4 linked regions of the Homo sapiens genome follow. The protein of the gene in region 2 interacts with the protein of the main gene of each other region in a pairwise test. Each region holds a gene or a part of one and is shown on either strand. Other genes may lie near its edges.

Region 1 (4,388 bases), about 94 Mb from region 2:
TTTGAGTTCTAGCTCTTCCACTCCAGGAATGGGGACTCTTAATCACTTCATTATATAATCAATCCATTGTATCTTGGATCATTGTTTGGTTTCTTTTTATTGGTTTTGTTTTATTGCTAGCATTATGTTCTTCCCCCACCCCTAATTTTGTGTGTTTATGTTTTCAGCTATACTTTGGGTCAAATAGACTTGCAAAAACCTAGCCACTTTTTGCAGTGTCATACACTTGGGGAAGTAAGGTCTGTGTTCTCTGTGAGAGGTTTTTTTTTTTTTTTTTGACAGGGTCTTGTTCCATTCCCCCAGCTGGAGTGCAGTGGAGTGATCTTGGCTCACTGCAACCTCTGCCTCATGGGCTCAAGCGATCCTCCCATGTCAGCCTCCCGAGTAGTTGAGACCACAGGCATGCACCATCACACCCAGCTATTCTTTTGTATTTTTAGTATAGATGGGGTCTTGCCATGTTGCCCAGGCTGGTCTTGAACTCTTGAGCTCAAGTGATCTGCCCCCCTTGGCCTCCCAAAGTGCTAGGATTACTGGTGTGAGCCACTGCCCGGTCAAGGTCTGCATTCTAAAAGAATTTACAAATGACCTTTTTGGAAAACAGGATTGAGAGGATATTTGACTTTGAGAACGGTTGATTTTGAGGCATACCTTTTTCTTTTATTTAGAGAATAAACTCTCAGCTCTAAAATTACACACTCTAGAATATATTCATCTATGGTTTTTTAATGTCATAAAGCCTTTTAAAAATTGGGTATTGTAAAATCAAACACAGCAATAAGGATGGAAATTGCTTGCTAGATACTTTTTAATAAAGTGTAAATATTTCAACTGTAAACTTACCTTTTGGGAAAAGCTCTGTTCCTAGCTTGACATCCATGTCAAAATTTATTGAAGTGAAACCCAACATGGGGTTTGAGGGAATATCCAGAAGACTGATATGTTCAAGATTTGGAAGAGCTAAAGGACTGGCCTCTCTGTAATTAGATTAAGCTATGTTTTGGGTCCCTATTGCAGTGTGTTTTCACCTTGATATAATTAATCAGTATTTATTGAAAATCTAATATGCATTCAGCACTACTTGGAATGATAGGAGATAGAGGAAAAGTAATACACATGGTGTCCCCTACCATGACACTCATGATAGATGACATTCATATAAAAGACACACTGCTAGGGGTTGTGGGATACATCAGATCATCTGATCAAGGGAGCATACTGGAGTTCAAACGAGTGACAGAAATGTTATCTAAAGGGAATCTTGAATCTATCCATATATATCATTCATTCACAGACTTGGTACTTTTTTTATTAGTAACAAATTACTTACTGTATACTATAATTTACCATGGCACACCAGTTTGTTATGAAGTGACAGTTGAAAACTGCTGTGTTGGAGCTTATGACAGTAGGAGGGACAGGATTTACTGCTATAAAATAACTGAATAATTCAGGATAATGTAAAATATACTGAAATGGGATGTGCATTATTACTGCTCCTTGAGGGCTTTTATAGTCAGGGAAAGCTTTGTGGAGAAAATGGCTACTGAAAAAACAGATAGCATATCAGCCCAGGTTCTTAATTGCAAGGAAGAGAAATACAATCTGATTGATTTTAAGCAGAAAAGAATTTATTAAAAAGAACTGGGATATAATGCATACCCTTTGGCCCCACAGTTTCATTCCTAGATATACAGCCAACATACACGCATACATGTGTTTACTAATATGTGCAAGAATGTTTGCAGCAGTGTTTGTAATAGAATCACACTGGAAACTAAATGCCCATTAAAGGTAGCATAGATAAGTAGTTTTTTTGTTTGTTTGTTTTTGTTTTTTTTTGAGACAGAGTTTCATTCTTGTTGCCCAGGCTGGTGGAGTGCATTGGCATGATCTTGGCTCACTGCAACCTCTGCCTCCCGGGTTCAAACGATTCTCCTGTATCAGCCTCCTGAGTAGCTGAGATTACAGGCATGTGCCACCATGCCCAGCTAATTTTTATATTTTCAGTAGAGGTGGGATTTGGCCATGGTGGCCAGGCTGGTCTCGAACTCCTGACCTCAAGTGATCCACCCTCCTTGGCCTCCCAAAGTGCTGGGATTACAGGCGTGAACCACCCCACCTGGCCTGTATTCACCTGATCATAGAAGGTTATACAGCAGTGAGCACAGACTGCAATTATGCATAACATGGGTGAATCTCACAAAACCTAAAATTGAGGAAAGAAAGCAGACACAAAAGAGAGCATAGTGAATGATTTTATTTATATCAAGTTGAAAAATGGATAAAATTAATCTATAGTGTCAGAAATCAGGATAATGGTTACCCTTGGGAAGGGAATAGTAACCCTTGGGAAGGGAAAGGGAAATAAGGAGGGCTTTGGAAGTGTAGTTGACCCTTGAACAACACAAGTTTGAACTGTGTGTGGATCTACTTATACATGAGTTTATTTCACCTCTACCACCCTGAAGACAGCAAGACCAACCCCTCCTCTTCCTCCTCCTCGTTATGATTTTTTTTTTTTGAGACGGAGTCTCTATCTGTTGCCCAGGCTGGAGTGCAGTGGCGCGATCTCAGCTCACTGCAACCTCTACCTCACAGGTTCAAGCGATTCTCCTGCCTCAGCCTCCCAAGTAGCTAGGATTATAGGTGACCACCACCAAGCCCAGCAAATTTTTAGTGGAGATGGGGTTTCACCATGTTGGCCAGGCTGGTCTCGAACTCCTGACCTCAAGTGATCCGTCTGCCTCAGCCTCCCAAAGTGCTGGGATTATAGGTGTGAGCCACCATGCCCAGCCCTCCTTATGATTTTCTTAACATTTTCTTTTCTCTAGCTTTATTTTCAAAACACAGTATGTAACACATATATAACATACAAAATATGTGTGAATCGACTGTTTATGTTGTTGGTAATGCTTCCAGTCAACAGTAGGATATTAGTAGTTAAGTTTTGGGGGAGTCAAAAATAATATGCAGATTTTCAACTGTGCAGTGGGTCAACACCTGTTAATGTTCTGTTTCTTGACACAGGTGGTTTTGGTTTGTGAAATTATTTGAGCTGTAGACTTAATGTTACGTGCACTTTTCCCTTACATCTGTTATACTGTGCCTGTTTCTGTACATATGTTACATATCAAATGTTTATTAAAGGGGTATATTGGGTAACTCAGAATTTCTGGTGCTCCTGGCTATATATACCAAATCCCAGTTCAGGATTCAACAACCCAGATCATGCTGCTGAACTGCACTACCACTGCCAAGTGTGAAATTGAAGCTTGCTCTGCTGGCCTTGTTGCCTGGGAGCTTGATCCTGCTTCTGTTACTCCACACCTGTCTCCCTCCCTGTTCCATTCCTGGCTCCATTTGCAGCCCTCCTTTCAAAGTGTGGGGTGGATACCTTTGTTAGGCAGAGCCTAGCACAAGTGGTCCTCCTTACTGCAAGGGAGTCTGGGAAAGCAAGTATCCAGTGTTTTCAGCTTTTATAGTGGGTGGTGATTTCTGCCAGAAATTGTAACAAGGGGACAAGGGGTGTTTCAGATTTGGGGCAGCCAAAAAGCGAGCAAAATCCATCTTTGAGGTGAGCATTTAGGCCAATAGAAGAAAGTAGATTTCAAGTGTTAGGAACAATAGAAGCCCAGGGTAGAGGTTGAATAGAGTATGGCATTTGAGCCCAGTGGAAACAAGTTTAACTGGATTAAAGGGTGTGCTCTGGGAAAATAGTTTGAGAAAAGTTGAAGGAATAGGATGGGACAAGATTAAAGATTACTTTGAAAGTCAGGCAGAGGAATTTAAATTTCATATGGGAATGTTGGAGCCAGTAAAAGTTTTTGAACAAGAAAGTGTCCTAAAAGGAAATGGTACTTAAGGATTATTAATCTGGCAGCACTTCTAGGGGTATCTAGGCATTTTCTGTCATAATTTAGGTGTGGGGTGATAGATTGGGAGTAGAAATAAAAGACAAAGATTGTATTTAAGAGAAGATTTGAAGGAAAAAAATCAATAGGACTTCTTGAAGAGAAAGAAGTAGAGGCTATTTCTGAAACTGAGCTTGAGTGACTGATCCCACTCTTCATTTAGAGCTAGCAAAGCTGAGGAGGGACCCAGTTTGGAGGAAGCAGAAGAATGAATTTTAGTTTGGGAATTGCTGAGTTTGAGGTGAGAGATATTGAGTAAAAGTGGTCCCTGTGCAGTTAGAGTTGGGGACCAAGAAGTGGAAAGAATTGCACTCAGGCAGAAAGGCTGTGAAGGGAATGGAACAGAGTGTGCCAGAACCCTCAGGGTGTTTCTCAGCTCTTGTTTACGGGCCACCAGGTATACTATCTTGAATTTAATTTTAAGTGATACGTTTGAACCACAACCTCTACCTTTTGTTTCATAAAACGTCAGTT
Region 2 (5,827 bases):
ATTCTCTAATTAAAAATTCTAAAGAAATCAGCTCACAAAATATTCAAATGTATAAGGAAATTCAGTAAACTTGTGTAGAAAATCACTATAGTGAAATCAGGAATCTAGCCACATGAAACAAACAACTAATTAGAAAATGTAACAATGGGGTGGGGGTTGGGGGAGGCAGGGCATCAAGAAGATGAATGCTGGCTAATGGATGCTGGGCTTAATACCTATGTGATGGGATGATCTGGGAAGCAAACCACCATGGCATATGTTTACCTATGTGACACGTGTTTACCTATGTGACACAAACCACCATGGCACATGTTTACATATGTGACAAACCTGCACACGTACCCCAGAACTTAAAAGTTGAAGAAAAAAAGAGAAAATGTAATAACAATCCCATTATGTGGGCAAAGGACATGAACAAACACTTTTCAAAAGAAGATATACATATGGCCACAAGCATATGAAAAAAAGCTCAACATCATTGATCATTGATGAGAAACGCAAATCAAAACCACAGTGAAATACCATCTCACAACAAATAACTAATTAGAAAATGTAACAATGTAAAAAATAGAATGACTATTACCAAAAAGTCAAGAAAATAACAGATGCTGGAGAGGTTGTGGAGAAAAAGGAATGCTTACACACTGTTGGTGGGAGTATGAATTAGTTTAACCAGTGTGGAAAGCAGTGTGGTGATTCCTCAAAGAGCTGAAAACAAAACTACCATTCCACCCAGCAATCCTATGACTGGGTAGATACCCAAAGGAATATAAATTATTCTATCATAAAGGTACATTCACACATGTGTTCATTGTATTACTATTCAAGAGAGCAAAGGCATAGACTCAACCAAAATGTCCATCAATGGTAGACTGGCTAACAAAAACGTGACACATATACATCATGGAATACTATGCAGCCATAAAAGAAGATCATGCCCTTTTCAAGAACATGGATGGAACTGGAGGCCATTATTCTTAGCAAACTAAAATAAAAACAGAAAACCAAATACCACATGTTCTCACTTATAAGTGGGAGCTAAATGATGGGAACACATGGACACATATAGCGGAACAATGGATACTGGGGCCTTTTAGAAGGTGGAGGGTGGGAGGAAGGAGAGGGTCAGGAAAAATAACTAATAGGTGCTAGACTTAATACAAGGCTGATAAAATAATCTGTACAACAAACCCCCATGACACGAGTTTACCTATATAACAAACCTACACATATACTCCTGTACTTAAAATAAAGGTTAAAGAAAAAGAAGCCTCAAGGAATCTTGTAAAAACATTTGTGCTACCTCAAGACTTTAAGTCATGAAATTCACTGTGAACTGGATTAGGATCTTACGCGAGGGGCATAAGTAAAGCTTTTCAGAAATTCAAAGCTGACTCAGCCAGTGTAGTAGAAACAAAACAAACATAATATACAAAGCATTAAATTGAAAGTAATGGTTCCAAATAAGGAAAGATCCTAGCTACTTAAGATTTTCTCTGAGAAGTTCTTTTCTGGATTACTTTTAGTGCCTGAATGAAAGATCCTTTGATGTTTCTGTCATCCTCATTTTTCTCCTAATGTACCATCCTGAAAATCTATTTCAATAAATTTGAGAGGGCTTTAAAAATAAAAAAAAATGGAATGAAAAATATACCATTCAAAAGAGCAGCAACATTCAAAATATACCTAAAAAGAACATTCACAAAAACATACACACTCTATCAAAGCAAATATAAAAATGTGTTGATAGACTTAGGTGGATGCCTAAGTACAGCAATACAATATGTTTATATATGGTGAACATAATATTGTACAGATGTCAATTATCTTTATTTACAGATTTAGTGCCTTATTTGATGGCCTCAAGTCAGCAGAGAAGTGGCCCAGCACCTACAAAAAGTCAAGATAAGACACTGAGTGAGGACTGAGGGCATTACCTACCCAAGAAGAGGGACCCCCACAGAGCCCCGCCCCTACTGTCAATCTTGGGAGTCCCCAGGCGTGGCTGCTGGGCTCAGGTTCCACCTTACTTCCTACTCTGGACTCAGGGAAATGATCCTTTTTCTGAGGCTGACTGATTCAGCTTAGCAAAGAGAGAAGTCCCAGTGCCTGCAAAGTCAATGAAAGAAATATATGTATTTCTTTAAGAACTGCCCCTCCCCCGAACGCAGAACCATTTGCCGTTAAGCTGGGAGAGCAAAGTGGGCGTGGCCGGACATGTTTCTCTTGACCTATCTTCCACATCATCAAGCTGTTACGGGCGAAACCTTGGTCTGAAACATGCGGCCAGAGAAATAAATCTCAGGATCCGGCAGGTGTCAAAGTGAGTATCATTTGTTATGACCTTCAAGACACACTCTTCCCAGAACAGAGGCTGCCTCACAGAGACCCATCCTTCTCTGCTCTGTCCTGCTCCCACTTTCAACTCTCTGTGTCCCAAAGCGCAGCTGTTAGGCCTAACACCCTTACTTCCTGTTGGGAATCTGTGGGATGGGAAGCCATGGTCTAAAGCGAGGCAGCCTCAAGTCAACAGACGGAGGACTCAAAAGACTAAAGTAAAATTAATATCCTAAGTTAGAACTGATGTAGTCAGGAGTAAAATTAATATCCTGAGTTAGAACTGATGTGACAACCCCCCACAGAACAGTCCCACCCCGCTCCTGCCTTATGGGTTCCTAAAGCAATACCCTCAAGAGAACCAGGAGAGGTGGCCATTCTTAGACCAAGGTAGAATCTCCCTACCAAGGCTGTGAACACTATCTCATCCTCCGTCTTCTAGGGTGCCCTCTTCATCAATTCAACTGCCTGCACTATTGTCTGTAGTCCCTGACAAGAGTAATTATGCCTCGAGGTCAGAAGAGTAAGCTCCGTGCCCGTGAGAAACGCCACCAGGCTCGTTGTGAGAATCAGGATCTGGGAGCTACGCAGGCCACTGTGGCAGAAGGAGAGTCACCCTCCCCTGCCTATCTTCTCTTTGGTGACAGACCCCAGAATTTGCCTGCTGCTGAGACACCTAGCATCCCTGAAGCGCTTCAGGGAGCCCCATCCACCACCAATGCTATTGCACCTGTTTCATGCAGTTCAAATGAAGGTGCCAGCAGCCAAGATGAGAAAAGTCTAGGTTCCTCAAGGGAAGCTGAGGGCTGGAAAGAAGATCCTTTAAACAAGAAAGTAGTGTCGCTGGTGCATTTCTTGCTTCAGAAGTATGAAACGAAAGAGCCAATTACAAAGGGAGATATGATAAAGTTTGTTATCAGGAAGGATAAGTGTCACTTCAATGAGATCCTCAAGAGAGCCTCTGAGCACATGGAGCTGGCACTTGGTGTTGATTTGAAGGAAGTGGATCCCATCAGGCACTACTATGCCTTTTTCAGCAAATTAGACCTCACCTATGATGAAACAACCAGTGATGAAGAAAAAATTCCCAAGACTGGCCTCCTGATGATTGCACTGGGTGTGATCTTTCTGAATGGCAACCGTGCCCCAGAAGAGGCAGTCTGGGAAATTATGAATATGATGGGTGTATATGCCGATAGGAAGCACTTCCTCTATGGGGATCCCAGGAAGGTCATGACCAAAGATTTGGTGCAGCTAAAGTACCTGGAGTACCAGCAAGTGCCCAACAGTGATCCTCCACGCTATGAATTCCTGTGGGGTCCAAGAGCTCACGCTGAAACTAGCAAGATGAAAGTCCTGGAGTTTGTAGCCAAGATACATGATACCGTCCCTAGTGCCTTCCCATCCTGCTATGAAGAGGCTTTGAGGGATGAGGAACAGAGAACCCAAGCCAGAGCTGCAGCCAGGGCTCATACTGCTGCCATGGCAAATGCACGTTCCAGAACCACGTCTAGCAGCTTCTCCCATGCTAAGTGAAATCTGAGGCTTGTTCTTCACTTTTTGGTCGAAAAGGTCTGTCAACATTCTAATAGTGGAGGGCCATGGTGGGGCTGGAAGAAATAAGTGTATATCATCTTTGCATTCCTATTGTATATTGATAACTCGAGTTTTACTTTTCCATCTTTTTGTTTCCCCTAGGTTACATTTCAAATGTTCAAGTCTGAAGATTGTTTTCTTTGTGGAAGAGAAGAGCAGTCAACATTCTAAGTAGTGAATGGCCAGAGTGCGTCTGGAGGGAACACAGCATATATCATTTTGTGTTAATAGTCTATAGTAACTCGGAGTTGTATCTTTTTCTTTCTTTTTTTTTTGGTGTTATATTTCAAATGTTGTTGCTTATAATAGAAGTTTTAGATAACTTCAGAATCTATATTTATTAATGACTTTGGTTACACACGTATTGCTATTTAAGAGTAGGAGTTTTATTGTTCTGTAAAACAAATTGGGAAACCTTCTTTCATATTTAATGAGCCAGAACAAGGAAACACAGTATTGGAATAGGTATTTCCTTAAAAAATGTGAGATGATTTAGCAGTAAAATTTTGGAGATCAAAACATAGGTGAGAAAAAGTAAACTTTTCAGTTCTTGGTTTTCTTTTTCCATTTTAGTCTGTTATATAAAAATAAAAGTCATACCTGGATTGGCTTAGCTTACTGAAGAAGGTAGGAAGAAATAAAATGTTTATGAACCAGCATCTATGCTTACCGGCTCATTCATTCCTCCAATATTAATCCAACATCTGATTTTTGAAAGTAATTTTGTTAGAAATGGGAAAACCAGGATACAAAACACCCACCTCTGCTTAGACTTTTACAATTAATGAACAGTAATAATGTATGGAAGATGGTGAAATACTTCTAAGACCTAAAGGACAAGTAACAAGAGGGAGTAAGGAGGTAAGGAGTTAGAGAGGGGTTTGGGAAAAGTGCTGAAGTGTATCTGGCTGAAAATGGTAAGGTGCAAATTCTCTGAAGAAAGGCCCTTTTAGACTTTTGGAAACTTTGAGTCTCTCAGTGGGATATACTTTTAATTTAAGCTGGGTGGTGGGCTAGATGAAGCTTTGGGACTGGAGAGCAGAGGCCAGGCACTCAGATGGTGTGTCTCATTGTTGAAGGACAAAACCCTGGAGTGGAAAGCTCCACTTAAGAGTTACCTTGGTGACATCAATAAACCAGAAGAAAACCTCGGCCGGGCGCAGTGGCTCACGCCTGTAATCCCAGCACTTTGGGAGGCCGAGGCGGGCAGATCACGAGGTCAGGAGATTGAGACCATCCTGGCTAACATGGTGAAACCCCATCTCTACTAAAAATACAAAAAAATTAGCTGGGCATGGTGGAGGGCGCCTGTAGTCCCAGCTACTTTGGAGGCTGAGGCAGAGAATTGCTTGAACCTAGGAGGCGAAGCTTGCAGTGAGCCGAGATCTTGCCACTGTGCTCCAGCCTGGGTGACAGAGCGAGACTCTGTCTTAAAAAAAAAAAAAAAAAAAAAAAAAAAATCTCTTGGGGCAGAAGTGAGAAGTGGATAGTGTCCTGTGCTCTTGTTCACATTCAGTTGAACACATAGCACAATCTACTTATTTTATGCACAGCCTCTCCAGGAAATTTTTGAGAAATAATGGTGAAACTGCCTTGATGTGGGATGCTGAAAAGCTACTGTGTTGGCTCCTTTGCTCTGAACTGAGAGAGCCAAATCCTAGTATTTAAAAGGACATATTTTTGAGACAGGGTCTGGTTCTTTTCCCCAGGCTGGAACACAGTGGTGCAATCATGGCTCACTATAGCCTTGACTTCCCAGGCTCAAGCAATCCTCCCACATTAGCCTCTCAAGTAGCTGGGACTAGAATCACACATCACCCTACCCAGCAAATTTTTTGTATTTTTGTACAGACAGGGTTTCACTGTGTCACCAAGGCTGGTCTTGAACTCCTGA
Region 3 (4,388 bases), on a different chromosome or scaffold from region 2:
TTTCGTAAGACCTCATATCTACCGATGTGATTATTTTGAGTATGTTAATATACTTCAAAGCAAAATGACAGTATGTAAAACACAAAGCTCAATCACTCATTCATCACGTATTTATTGACTATCTGCCATGTGCCAAGCACTGTTACATATTGTGGGGTAATATCAGCAAACAAAACAGGCAAAGATGCTTGCCTTTATGGAGCTCACATTATAAGGTGACACTGAAAATAAAATAATGTTTAGGGCAAACATGGTCTCTGCTCTCACAACACTTAGCCTAGGTAGAAATACAAAGCAAGCCGTTGGTAGACAGGCCATGTGGTAGGCAGAAAAGCAGAAGGTGCCTGGTATTGTGAAGGCATCTAACTGTGACTGAGGTACATCTAGCAGAGTTTCCCAGGTGAAGTTATCTTGGTAGGAATAATCTAGATGAAGAAAGGGACAGGGATGAATATTCTAAGCAAGGAAGAATATGTTTATAAAAAAGCCAGAAGAAAGAGAGTAGGGAAAGTTCGGGGAACTGATAGTAGTCCATTCAGGCTGGAGCATAGTGTTCAAGAATGGAATGGTAGATGAATCTAGAGGAGTTAAGCAGGGTCATACCATGAATGGCTTTTAAAGTAAGTTGTTGTAAGGAGTTTGGAATTTATATATTGAGGAACCATTAAAGCAGGGGAGCGATATGTAGCATTTGAAGGATGAATATCAAAAAATCGTTTCAAGGAATAAGGTAAATAAAGTCACTTTGGTGTTTGTTTCTGCACATTAACACTTCAAAACTTGGCCTAGAATAAAATTGAGCACGTCCATGAAACCAATTTTGAACCTCAAAAATGAATGGTAGCCTAATCATTAGTTATTTTAATAGAATATACAGGAGCATTTACATAACTATATATTTGAGGTTTTATTAGTGGTGTTAATATCTCAAGGCAGAACAGCACTTTATCTTCACATCATTATAACTATTTTAAGCCCAAGAAGCCTTAGTACTTTTTTCCACTTTATCCTGAAACTCTGGAAGTGCGGCATAGGGGTTGCTTATACTCGCATTCTACTTAAAGCCACACTATGCTTAGGACTTGGCCATTTAAACAAAATCCAGTTGTTGCGTTATTACTGCTCTTTGAGATAAGCTCCAGCAATACAAAGTAAAACCAGTGCTACTATTCTAGAAAAGAAAGTCTAGCTTGTCTCTCCACCCTCAATTATATTATTGCTAATGACCAATGACATTGGAGGAAGTTTTATCTCTTTAATTTGTTGCAGGTTATGCTTTTTAAGATAATACATAGAAATATTCAAATATAGAACTTGACAAATCATCCAGCTTCACACTAACACATTCAAAAACTATTTATGAAGAAGAGAACCAGATTGTATTGTTAATAGTTGCAATAACAGTACCAACAGGTAGTAGAAGTAACTGAATAACAGCCATCACTTTGGTTGAGCTTAAGTTGTGCATAGGTGCTCTTCCAGACACCTCATGTGTATTATTAACTTTATAATCCTCACCACCAAATGAGGTAGGTACTATTATTATCCATATTTTAAAGATGAGAAAGCAGAAGTACTAGTCACAAGATTAGCAATTTTTTTAATAATTGGAAGGCTTTTGCATTTCAAGCTCCAGTGGCTTAATTGACATTTTTATAGAATGAGTAATTGCTATGATTTTTTAACGTATCAATAAAAGTTCTTAGAAGGTAAAAATGGCCTTTCAGTTCATTTTTTAAATCTTTAACTCTGCAAAATTGACATAGGTACACTTCAGTGGCTAATCAAAGGCTAAAATCATACTAGTAGATTTGGAAGTAAAATATGGTTAGAGAACTAAAAAAGCCATGTGTATATACATATTCATATAAATAGAGCTTTTTCTTATCTTCAGAAATGTATGTATTTAATCCCTACTGAAGAACCGAGTTCACTGAGGAAAGGATACTAGGACAGGTGGTCTTAATTTTAGAGAGGAAAAGCTATATTTAAAACTATTTCACCCTTTATCCATCAGAGAAACATTTGCTTTTCATTTTTAAAATGTACTGTTCCAGATGTGGGGGATATAGTATATAAATAAAATAATCAAAATTCCTGCCTTCCTGGAATCTACATTCTATATGGGGGCAGAAGGGAGCAGAAAAGCAATATGTATATAAATTATATAGTATATTAGAAGGTGAAAATGGTGTACCGGAAAATATAGCAGGAAACTACTTTGATGGGAGTAGAGAAAGACGTGAGAAAGCACACATGCAGGCATCTGAGAGAAGATGCTCCAGGTAGAGGGTGCAGCAAGTACAAAAACCCTGAGGGCATGACATAGCTGGTATGGTCAAGGAACAGCAAGGAGGGCTTGGCTAGAGACGAGTAGAGGAAACGGGGAGCCAAAACATATAGGGCTTCGACTTTGGTCTTTACTCAGAGATGAGGCGCCTTTGGAAATTTTGAGCTGAAGAGTGACATAATTTTAGGCTTTAACAGAATCATTCTGGCTGCCACGTTGAGGATAGGTGTTGGGTGGAAGCTGACTGATCTGTTTCAAACTTATTGCAATAATGTAGTCAGTAATTCAGTCAGAAGATGGCAGTGGCTTGGATCAGGGTAATTGTGGTAGGTAGGATGGAAGTGGTCAGGTCCTGTGGGCCTGTGGGTGTTGTTTGTTTTTTGTTTGTTTGTTTTGTTTTGTTTTGTTTTGTTTTTTTGAGACAGAGTCTTGCTCTGTTGCCCAGGCTGGAGTGCAGTGGCGCAATCTCGGCTCACTGCAAGCTCCTCCATCTGGGTTTATGCCATTCTCCTGCCTCAGCCACCCGAGTAGCGGGGACTACAGGCACCCACCACCACACCCAGCTAATTTTTTGTATTTTTAGTAGAGACAGGGTTTCACCGTGTTAGCCAGGATGGTCTCGATCTCCTGACCTTGTGATCTGCCCGCCTCGGCCTCCCAAAGTGCTGGGATTACAGGCGTGACTGTGGGTGTATTTTAGACTTAAAGCCAGAAGGATTTGCTTGACAGACTGTATGTATATTGGACACAAAGAGGTCAAGAATTATTGCAAGGTTTTGTTTTGTTTTGTTTTAGAGACAGAGTTTCACTCTTCCAGTCCAAGGTGGAGTACAATGGCGCAACTTCGGCTCACTGCAACCTCTGCCTCCCGGGTTCAAGAGATTCTCCTGCCTCAGCCTCCCAAGTAGCTAGGATTACAGGTGTGCGCCACCATGCCCAGCTAATTTTTTGCATTTTTAGTAGAAAAGGGGTTTCACCATGTTAGCCAGGCTGGTCTTGAACTCCTGGCCTCAGGCTATCTGCCCGCCTCAGCCTCTCAAAGTGCTGGGATTATAGGCGTGAGCCACCACGTCCATCTGCAAGTTTTTGACCTAAGTAACTGAAAGAATGGGGAGTTGTAGATAGTTAAAATGGGGAATGCCAGAGGAGGCAAAGATTTCAGGGATGGAGGTCTGGGAAGTATGTCAGTTATATTAGAAGCCCAGTTTTAAATATGTTAAGTTTGAGATGTCTCTTAAACATTTAAGTGGAGGTATCCAATTTTAGGATATGCAGGTCTGGACTTGGATTGGGGGCAGGGTGAATTAGATAATTAGAGAGTTGTCAGCATATCAAAGATATTTAAATCTGTGAGACTAGATAAACCCTCAAAGGAGTAAGTATAGAGAAAAGGAGAGGATCAAGGACTGATCCCTGAAGTACTCTAGCATAGAGAGTTGAGGAACGAGGCAAGGAAGATGATAACGAGTGAGGCAGTGAGGTAAAATGGAAACTAAGAGTATGGCCTGGAAGTCAAGTGAACATGTGTGAAAGTGGGAGAGAATGGTCACTGCCTAGGTCAAGTGAGAGGACTACGAATTGACCATTGGATTTAGGAACATTAAAGTCATTGCTAACCTTGACGAGTAGTTTTGGTGAAACAGTAGGCGCAAAGTAATGTTTGTAATATAAGAGACTCGGAGGAGAGGAATTGTGACCGTAAGAATACGTAAATCTTTCAAGGGGTTTTGGTGTAAAGGGGAACAGAGGAATGAGGCAGTAGTCGGAGGAGAAAGTGGGGTCTAGCAATTTTTTGCTTGTTTTTTAAGATAGGAGAAATAAGGGCATGTTTGTAAGCTGATGGGAATGATACACTAGGTGGAGAAAATATGATAATGTGGGAGGGAAAGGGAAGAATTGCTAGAGTGATACCCTAGAGAGGCAAAAAAGGATGAGATTTTGTGCACATATGGAGGAATTAGCATCAGGAGCATAGACAGCTCATTAAAGAGTTTCCTGGCCAGGCGCAGTGGCTCATGCCTGTAATCCCAGCACTTTGGGAGATCAAGGTGGGCAGATCACTTGAGCTCAGGAGTTTGAGATTAGCCTGGTCAATATG
Region 4 (4,388 bases), on a different chromosome or scaffold from region 2:
GCAGCCCTACCTCCCTGAGACCTAGAGCAATCCCTTTCCTTCATAACCCCGTGTAAAAACTTCCTAAAGTCTGTCAGTCTGCACCTGAAAAACACCTTTCCTCCATGAAGGGAAGAAAGGCTAGAGGTATTTTCTAGGAGAACAAAGCGCAACAGTGCAACTACAAACTGTTTGGATGATGACCCACCAGTAAGCTATATATTTCACATTGTAGTGAAGAACATACTTAAATAGTATGTATGTCTCTGAAACTAAAATATCTTGCCATGTGTATAGTTCATTGTAAGGATGTACGATATTAATTCTAATCTTTTCTATTGAATTCCATTCTGTTTAACTTGTTTTTTGAGACAGAGTCTCACTCTGTCGCCCCCACTGGAGTGCAGTGGCGCAATCTCAGCTCACTGCAACCTCTCCCTCCTGGGCTCAAGCAATTCTTGTGCCTCAGCCTCCCGAGTAGCTGGGATTACAGTCACATGCCACCACACCTAGCTAATTTTTGTATTTTTTTAGTAGGAATTGGGGTTTCACCATGTTGGCCAGGCTGGTCTCAAACTCCTGACCTCAGGTGATTCTCCCACCTCGGCCTCCCAAAGTGCTGAGATTACAGTTAACTTGTTTTTTATATGCTGATCCTGATGCATTAAATTAATTTCACAGTTACTAAAGGGTCATAACCTACAGTTTGAAAGGTTCAACTGGGTGAGCCAGAAGGCCCAGAATTCCCCACTAGGGCCAGAACGGCACGTTCTTTCCTGACCTGGCTTCTCTTTGCTCCCATCCTGCCATCTCCAAGCCTGAAACATCATCTGTCAATTGCTTGGGCAACAACATGAGCATCTCTGAATCATAGCTGTGGGCAATCCTCCAGCACACAGACACCCACAGATGGCTCCGTACATCAGGCAGGTGTCAGCAAAGGCTCCAGAGGCTTCTGATGCTACAAAGCACCCAAGACTAGGGCTTCAACTCCACTAACCCAGGCTCCCTCTGGCTACCCATAATCCCCCACCCTCTGAGGAGAGCTCTCTACCTTTTTCTTCCTACACATCTTCCTATATATAACCCCTTCCACATCAGTCTCTGTCTTCCTTAACCCGTCACCCAAAAGGGTCTGACTACTGCCTCCTTCGCCAGGACTTCGTGGTGCTCCACCAGATTCTAATTCACCATCAAGACTTTCATTCTGACCACTTTTCCCTAACAGCCTGCATTAGCTCTACCGCTTCTCCCCACCCCACAAAGACTCCGAAGTGAGGACTGCACCAGTCCTGAAACACGTCAAACTCAGCCTTCCAGGGACAGGCTCACCAAGAGTCTAGAGTGAAAGGAAGAGGGAGGGGACAGAGAAAAGGTACCGATGTGAAAACAGGGTAGCTCCTGCCCTCAATATCATGGGGAAAGAAGACAGCCTCCATTCAATATTTTAATAAGAAATAATACATGTTACCCAATGACAAGCCAATGTGCAAAGCAAGTAACATGCCAAGTCTTCCAGGGGATAAGGACCACTAGAGGCCACCAAGGCAGTGATTCTCAAACTCATTCTGACAGCAGAACTCAGGGAGGTGTGATATTCTATGAGGGACTGCTTGAAATGTTACCCCAGGAAAAGGAAATAAGCAAATACTCTTGGCTGTCACATAGATGACACTTCATACTAAATTCCTGAATGGCTAAGTACAGTGGATGCCAAATATTAAGGTAAAAATTATGAAAGAAAACCTTACTGCTGAGAAAATTCTATCCAGTTAACCAAGTCTGCTCAGCACCTTGGAGAGGGGGGCCAGCCATCATTCAATGTCAGAACCCACACACATTACGCAGCTCCCAGAATACCAGGCTCTCGGGGAGCACAGTACGTGAGCCTCTGCCCAGAACCAGTCTTGAACAAGTAGGATGGGGTTTCCAAAAGAGAATAGGCAGGAGCGGAGGAACAGCATGTATGATGGATGGTGTATGGGAGGAAAAACATAAACCAGCAAAGAGACAGGCAGACCCATGAGAGTGCATCTCCATGCCCCACCCAGCACCAGCACCATCATGGACCACTCAGACCTCTGCTGCCTACAGCCCTGGAACTAACCACTCACCCAAGGTCAGGGTCCAAATCAAGCCACCAAAACTGTGGCTTCCATTAATTATATCACCTGGAGAACCTACTGAGGACAGCTGAGTGTTAAAGAAATGCAATCCCAGTAACTAACTTAGAGTGTACCACAGCAAAGGAGATGGCACTTTAACAGGAACATCTGGGCCAGCGCATTAGCAGCAGCATGACAAACATGATGCCATCAAAGCAGACACAACTGCTATAAACCTTCACTATAAAATCACCCTTCAACTTCTATAAAAAGAGCGCATGTGTACTGGGCACAATGACAACTCAACCCCCCAAAGTACAGACAAACGGCTTTAAACAGCAGCAGCTGGAGGCCATGGCATCTTGTCACTCCACTCATGAGCCGCAGGCCTGTGGGGACCCAGCAAATGGGCTCCCTAAATGTCTGGTCCCAGGGGGAAAGAAAGCCCTGCTGAGTTGCTGAACAGCCCCAGGGAAGAGCTTTTCCTCACTGCCCAGCCTCCTTCCTGAGAGGCCTCCAAAGCAGCCGACTGGTAGTGAACCTGAGGCAGGGGTGAAACAGAGATGCTGCAGACACCGCCTCCAGGCGAGGCCTGCCGGGCAATCCAAACTCAGCTCCTGGCACAGCATCGGCCCTGTACCAACCCGCAGGGGAGAGCCAGGCAGAGCTGGAATCCAGTAACTGAATCATCCTCCCATGAAAAACTCCAGCTCCCCAAAAGCTCATGCAGGGGCGGCCACCGCCACCTGCTCCCCCAACGCCCTCCCCGGGATATTGCTGGGTCCCCACCTCCATGCAGGCCGCAGCGTGGTGCCCAGGCAGGGCAGGTGAGGCAGTCCAGGGGCACACAGCCACCTTACCTCCGAAGTTGGCCAGCCGGCCAATCCTCGTCACAGGCACCTTCCGCTCCCGGGCATGCTCGCTGAGCTGGAGGGAGACGAGAAAGAGACCTGTGGAATCAGCCAAGGGGACAGGACCAACCTTCAGAGGCTCCTGTTGCCCCCACATCTCCTCTCCACCCCACAGTCAGCAGCTCCGCCTGACAGCACACTCCACCAAGAGAAGGCCACCACGCTCCTAAAAACCCCAGACCACAGCACCCAGGAAAAGTCCCTAGAGCAGAGCCCAAGGCCATCACTGCTGTGGGTGGCAGCTACCTCGGCCCTCCAGGGGCCTCCCATACGCACCGTCTGTTTGTGCTGCTTGTTCTCGGGGCGAGCCTTAGCCTGCCGGGCCTTCTCAATGTCCTCGGCTGTGAGGCCCCCAACAGGGGATTGGTCCTGGTGGAAGAACCTTCGCTGAAAGCCCATGGCAGAGAATGAGTCTCTGGGGTTTGCAAAGAGCCTCCCGTTGGCCCTGCCCAGAGGGGAGGAGGCCTGGCCGGGGAACCCGGCTTCTCTAAAGGGTCCACTGGCCACGTAGGCAGGAGCTGGGCCCTCGCTGTGGGCATGACCCAGGGATGGGGGCGCTGACTGGTCGGGAGCGGAGGCTGAAGAGAAGTCTGTGGAGGCTCCGGCTGCATGCGGGACTGAGAAGTGGAACTCCCCTTCTGGGCCGCCGAAGTTCTCAGCAAAATATTCTTCATGTTTATCCTGACCCTGCAGGGAGCAAAGGCCAGCATTAGGAGAGCAAGAGCGAGCCAGGAGCTCCTCCCTGCCTGTCCCCTGCTGCCCAGGACAGCACACCACCAGCATCCCGCCCCCTCCCACCTCCAGAGGTGGCACAGTGCTGCACCTGAGGCCCGGCACCCTTCCCAGCCTGGGAGCCGGGACCTGGGCTCCAGCCCTGCTTCTGTTGGGGCTCTGCTGTGTGGTCCTAGGTGGGACACTGAGCACCTACTGTGTGCCCAGCCGGGGCCAGGCCAAGTGCACACTACGCCCGCAGCGGGTTCCTCACCTATAAAACAGGGCCAAGAAGGCCTCCAGGGCTTTGGAGATGGTAAACCAGGGCGCAAAAGACAGGGAAAGCTCTGAGAGGTGAACACACAGCCTAAGGCCAGCAAGGGGTGAGGGAAGCACACCGACGGGCCCACCTAAGCCCACAGCTTACTGCAGACATGGATGCCACCCACCAGCCGGGGTATGCATGTAAGAGATCCTCACTGGAGAGGTGGTTACAACCAGGACCAGGCCTGGCCGTCCCTAAGAGCTCAGGGTACAGGGAAATGGAGGGGCAGGGGAGAGGATACGCCATGTTTTCTTTGTGATGGTCACCAAGGCCTGAGCTTCGGGCCCAGGTCCTTTCTGCTTCTGAACCAGGAGTGACCTTGAGTGAGCTCCTGACCCTTCTCTGCTACTTCCTCAT

The links. Proteins that work in one complex are often made in the same cells at the same time.
Region 1: the proteins of MAGEB18 (region 2) and LAMP2 interact in binary tests that used the Homo sapiens proteins (3 or more experiments, as listed by UniProt).
Region 3: the proteins of MAGEB18 (region 2) and SH3GLB1 interact in binary tests that used the Homo sapiens proteins (3 or more experiments, as listed by UniProt).
Region 4: the proteins of MAGEB18 (region 2) and COQ8A interact in binary tests that used the Homo sapiens proteins (3 or more experiments, as listed by UniProt).

What each region holds. Positions count from the first base shown.
Region 1 is NC_000023.11:120,458,409-120,462,796, reverse strand, and holds part of LAMP2 (lysosome-associated membrane glycoprotein 2 isoform A precursor), read left to right. Parts: intron 1-4,388. UniProt on the Homo sapiens protein: Lysosomal membrane glycoprotein which plays an important role in lysosome biogenesis, lysosomal pH regulation and autophagy.
Region 2 is NC_000023.11:26,136,145-26,141,971, forward strand, and holds MAGEB18 (melanoma-associated antigen B18), read left to right. Parts: upstream 1-2,198; 5' UTR 2,199-2,323; intron 2,324-2,779; 5' UTR 2,780-2,841; coding exon 2,842-3,873; 3' UTR 3,874-3,909; intron 3,910-4,035; 3' UTR 4,036-4,592; downstream 4,593-5,827. UniProt on the Homo sapiens protein: May enhance ubiquitin ligase activity of RING-type zinc finger-containing E3 ubiquitin-protein ligases. Proposed to act through recruitment and/or stabilization of the Ubl-conjugating enzyme (E2) at the E3:substrate complex.
Region 3 is NC_000001.11:86,735,576-86,739,963, forward strand, and holds part of SH3GLB1 (endophilin-B1), read left to right. Parts: intron 1-4,388. UniProt on the Homo sapiens protein: May be required for normal outer mitochondrial membrane dynamics. Required for coatomer-mediated retrograde transport in certain cells. May recruit other proteins to membranes with high curvature. May promote membrane fusion.
Region 4 is NC_000001.11:226,964,294-226,968,681, reverse strand, and holds part of COQ8A (atypical kinase COQ8A, mitochondrial), read right to left. Parts: intron 3,683-4,388; coding exon 3,272-3,682; intron 3,012-3,271; coding exon 2,945-3,011; intron 1-2,944. UniProt on the Homo sapiens protein: Atypical kinase involved in the biosynthesis of coenzyme Q, also named ubiquinone, an essential lipid-soluble electron transporter for aerobic cellular respiration.